2 separate regions of the Homo sapiens genome follow, and region 2 is linked to region 1. The links come from fine-mapping of genetic effects on gene expression. Tissue or cell type: stomach. Region 1 holds a variant in brackets; the other region holds the start of a gene. All regions are shown on one strand. Distances are from middle to middle.

What was found. PIP is the estimated chance that this variant, and not a neighbour inherited with it, causes the effect.
Region 2: it holds the start of TRMT9B, and the variant in region 1 is the best candidate, but not a certain one, in a credible set for the expression of TRMT9B in stomach (GTEx, PIP 0.87).

What each region holds. Positions count from the first base shown.
Region 1 is chr8:12,900,494-12,903,183 of GRCh38, forward strand. No RefSeq gene overlaps it. Among named protein-coding and RNA genes, the nearest start is that of TRMT9B, 44 kb to the right of the region's middle. RefSeq lists an enhancer at 234-735. The variant C/T (reference allele first, on the strand shown) is at 1,223.
Region 2 is chr8:12,944,392-12,947,081 of GRCh38, forward strand. It overlaps TRMT9B (tRNA methyltransferase 9B (putative)), which reads left to right and starts at 1,282. Exons shown (of 5, transcript NM_020844.3): 1 at 1,282-1,575.

The sequences.
Region 1 (2,690 bases):
AGATCGCTGAAGCTATTGGATTAAATATGAATCACAAGAAAGAAATTATGAACTTGGGATAAAGCAGGCTCTTTTCAGAAATCCAACACAGTGAGTAGGATTCAAAATCTTCCTTACTTCTTTTTGAAGCAAGCCATAAGTCTCACTTAACCTTTCATGGATTTCACGTGAACAAGAAATAGACTTCTGTTAAGTAACCAGGATTTGGGGGTTATGTGTTGCAGCAGTTATCCCTCCATAATTAATAGAGAAATTTGTGCCTATAAGTGGAGTGCTGCTTTAACAAAAACCTAAAAGCTTGTCTTAGAGTTCAGGCAGTGGGAGGTGAGGACATTGCCATATGAGGATGGAGACCAACAAACTGGAGATCTGTGCTGTGCAGGGCAGAACATTTAATCACTACCTGTGATAACCCAGAAGGCAGCCTGCTAGCCCGCTGAGGCAAAGAGGTTGGAAAATAAGAATGTTAGTGGTGAGCGTTGGTCATTACAGGCTGTGATTAGCATAACAGTAGAGGAAAGAGGTAAATTGGCCAATTTTAAAGCAGAAATAAGAGGGAATACAATTGTGGGTTCCACGTCAGAGGATTCAACCAATGATAGATCAGAAATATTCTTTAAAACCCTCCAAAATAAAAAATAACAGTGTAACAATAAAAAGGGATACAAATAAAAAATGATACAGTATAACAACTACTTACATGGCATTTACATTGTATTAGGTATTATAGGTAATATAGGGATGATATAGAGATTATTTAAAGTATAAAGGAGGATAGGCATAGGTTATATGAAAATACTATACCATTTTATATCAGGGACTTGAGCAACTGAGAATTTTAGTATCCTAGGGGGTCCTGGAACTAATCCCCTCACAGATGGACGACTATAGTCTAGAAATGTAGAGCCTTGCAGAGTTGGAAAAGTTGACTATTTCTAGACCACAAACAGTAACAAGTAAAACTCGAAGGAAAGATTTTGAATGACAAAGGCTCAGTAATTCCAAGTCTCAACCAGCCTTTATATTAGTATTAACATAGAAAATATAGAGAGGTGAATTTCCAAGTAAAAAGTTGTTATTTAGGCATAATATATAAGAAGAAGGATTGAAATCCAGGACATAAATATGGATGGTGGTGGCTTCTAGTATGTCCAGAGAACAAAAGATAAGGTTAAGTTTTTCTTGGGGAAATAGGAGGTGTGTAAATTGTTTGGAAAGAAAG[C/T]TTATTGGCATTGGCAAAGTCTTACAAGGGCTGGCGAGTTTTGATTGGCAAATGTTGGAAGTTGCTGGTAGGACCCGTTATCTTATTTAGTTATGGCCTGATAGTCAAATAAATTAGGAATATGCCCTTGAAGTTTTGGATTGGGTTTGTGAGACAGTGTGCCAGGCAAATGTTCTTGTATATGTGCCTAGCTGTGCTCATGTGACTCATGTAGTAAGCTGTGGTTTAGAAAAATTTCCTGTGGCCAGGCCTGGTGGCTCACGCCTGTAATCCCAGCATTTTGGAAGGCCAAGGCGGGCGGATCACTTTAGGTCAGGAGTTCAAGACTAGCTGGGCCAACATGGTGAAAACTCACCTCTACTGAAAATACAAAAATTAGCAGGGTGTGATGGTGCACGCCTGTAATCCCAGCTACTCAGGAGGCTGAGGCACACGAATCGCTTGAACCCAGGAGGCAGAGGCTGCAGTAAGCTGAGATTGTGCCACTGCTTTCCAGCCTGGATAACAGAGCCAGACTCTGTCTTAAAAAAAAAAAAAAAAAAAAAAAAAAAAAAAAAGGTCAGGCGTAGTGGCTCACGCCTGTAATCCCAGCACTTTGGGAGGCTGAGGCAGGTGGATCACGAGGTCAGGAGATCAAGACCATCCTGGCTAACATGGTGAAACCCCGTCTCTACTAAAAAATACGAAAAATTAGCCGGGCGTGGTGGCAGCCGCCTGTAGTCCCAGCTACTTGGGAGGCTGAGGCAGGATAATGGCGTGAACCCGGGAGGCGGAGCTTGCAATGAGCCGAGATCGTGCCACTGCACTCCAGCCTGGGAGACAGAGCGAGACTCTGTCCCCAAAAAAAAAAAAAAAAACCTCCAGCCTGGGGCACAGAGTGAGACTCCATCTTAAAAAAAAAAAAAAAAAAAAGAAAAAAGAAAAAACAAACAAACAAAAACAACAGAAAAACTTCCTGTGATAGTTTCTGTTATCAGGCAAATCATGCATGAGAGTCCTCTCTTGATGGCCTTCTGTAGCTCCAGTTTGAATCTTACAACTTCTGCATTAGAAAAAATAAACTTTTCTTTTGCTAGGCTACCAAGGTTCTCAAGTTTTCTTCTATCAGTAGTTAATGGACCCTTAACTGGTACACATTTATCATATTTAATCTATGGAGCACCCATGCTTCTCAACCAGGAGATGTGTGTCTATAGATATGTTTGAGCGATTCATAGGTAAGCTCTATAAGAATTGTATCTTAGCTGAATACAATCATTTGAATTTTAGTAGTGTTCTTGCTGTTGTGAGTCTTTGTATTAGTAACACTCAGTGGTTAATACTGGAATTGTTTTGATCCCTGATTTTAATATCCAAAATCTTCTGTTCTCTCAATTGCTAAACCTGCTTGCTTTCTCACCAATGACTAAAAAAGTTTAGCTGCTTAGCAATTTAGTATATTCTGTTTTGGTTTAGAAAAAGAAAGAAA
Region 2 (2,690 bases), 44 kb after region 1:
ATAGAAGAGGCCAGGTGTGGTGGCTCATGCCTGTAATCCCAGCGCTTTGGGGGGCCAAAGTGGGTGGATCACCTGAGGTCAGGAGTTTGAAACCAGCCTGACCAACATGGTGAAACCCTGTCTCTACTAAAAATACAAAAAAATTAACCAGGCCTGGTGGCACGCGCCTGTAATTCCAGCTACTTGGGAGGCTGAGGAAGGAGAATCACTCGAACCTGGGAGTCAGAGATTACAGTGAGCTGAGATTGCACCACTGCACTCCAGCCTGAGGGACAGAGCAAGTCTGCCTCTCTCAAAAAAAAAAGTATATATATATATATATATATATATATGAAAATAAAATTCCATCACCTAGAGAAAATCACTAGTCACATTTTTGTATGGTTGTCCAGCATTTTCCCCTACATATATGTAAATATACTATATAATGTTAAAATATTGGGGTGAAACTGCTTTTTATTTAACACTGCATTGTATCTCCAGGTCATTAAATTGTCTTCAGGATCATGGCTCTGCATTTTTTAACATGTAGTTGCTCCCTTATTTATATAACACATTCTCTGTTGGTGAAATTTATTGTATTTTTTTGCAGTTTTTCTTTTCCTACCATGACAAATAAGCTCATCTTTTCCAGTCCTTGTTCATTCAAAGCTGGAAACAAACAACACACACACCCAAATCAGACCTGAGATTCTATGCACAAAAGTGCTTCTTGAAACAAATTATCTAATAGTATTGTAAAAAGAAAAAAAAAGAGATAAAATAAGCCAAGTGATATGTGTCACTCAGTGTTCCAGCGAAAAGCTGACTCCAAAAATTACGTGATCATAATAGCAGAATGATGAAAGAGTGACAGACAAAAGGTAAGAGCATGAGGATGAAGAGGTAATACTCAAACAGCTTTGGAAATGGAGAGGAAGCTGGCGAATGACACAAAGGACAGCTGGAGGATGAACCAGTTTCCCAAGGGGCAAAAGAAACAATGTTGTTTGACATCTTCAGCAAACATTCCAAACTGTAGGGAAGAGGGATGATGGGTTTGTGTTGGTGATAACAGCAAAGTATTAAAGCATGCCTAAAAACTTTCACCATAAAGCAACAATTATTCTTGGTAATGCTACCAGGATAACAAGTTTCTACATGTTGTCATGCTGGCAAAGAAAATAGGGTGTATTTAGAGATTAGATGCCCCATGGACATGTGGTCATGGAAACAAAAGCAAACAGCTAACGTGGCTATGTGTTGAGGTCAGTATTTGAGGGAACATCCGGTGTGTGTTTTATTCAGTATTGTGTAGTACAGAAAAGATCACACATGTATATGTCAGAAGTAGATGCACATGTTCTTTTGGCTTTTTTTCTTTGTTTTATTCTTTTTTCATTTTTTGTGTTTTTTGTTAGTTTGTTTTGAATTTTTTTTCTTGATGCATATGTTCCTTCAACTTATTCAGTACTTCCATGTGCAGGGCTCTGGACTAGACTTTCAGGATCTAAGGCTGAATCCTACACAGTCCTCCCTCTGGGAAAGTGATGAAACCTGTGAGCTCTCCTAGCAACTCTGCAGTCTTCCTTCAAGGTATGTGTTGCAATTTGGGGTTGCACATTTTAGTTGTGATATTTGTGATTAGTTGATTAATGTTTGTCATCCCACGAGACTATAAGTGCCATGAGGGTAGATATCTTATCTGTTTTGCTCCCCATTGCTTTTCTCACAGACTGCTCAGCAATGAATCTTTGTTGAATAAAATAATACTTTATACAAAGGTTAGTGATAAATGTAAGAAGCATCTAGATCAAGAACTGATACATTCTTAGGACAGAAAGATTAATCTAGACAATAGCTTTTTGTCTGGAATTATCTTTTATGGAAGAGACGGCCTTGGCAATCAGAAGAGCAGATTAAGCAATTAGTGTAATCATCTAGGTGGGAAGTAATGGGACATAAAGAACTAGAATAGAAACAATAAGAAGGGAGCAGAGTTGATAAATAAAAGCAGTACAGATACAAAATTGTCAGACGGTGGTCACCCATGGGCTATGAAGGGCAAGAAGAAGCAGAGTCTAAGAATGTGCCAGGTGACTGGGAGGACGGAGATTGTAGAAGAAAGAAAAGGGCAGCTGCTTTAGGTGCACGGAGGGCGAAGGACCTCAGGTTCGAATGTGTTGATGTCACCCTGGTGGAGATGTCAAGCAAGATGAGAGCATGGGATCTGCAGGTTTATGAGAAGACCAATTCAGAGAAACAGAATTTTGAGAAATCTACACAGCGTTTTTCCTTGCAGTTAGAAAGGTGGATGAGGTTGTCTAGGGAGATTATATAGAGAGAAAAGCAGAGGACCAAGGACAGGTGCTTGAGAAATGATGAGACTTGGCAGGACTACTTTTTTAAAAGTTCAGGAAGAAAGAGAAGAAGTGGCATTTCTCTTTTTGGTGCATAAAACCCTATAAGAGAAGAAACCATCCTATTCCCAATGCCAGGAAGTTCCCTATGTACCTTGAGAAGGTCTTCCAGGTTTCAGAGGTGTGGAAGATATCAGTTCCTTGGATAAAGGCAGCAGCTACACACTTTCTAGCAGCAAAATGGCTGAAGAACTGAAGGGTTTAGGATTTAGGAGATGGCTACTGGGACTCCAGCCCGTGAACATCCCAAAATGACAAAGACAGCTCTTGGTTAGCATGTCTGTCTCTAAA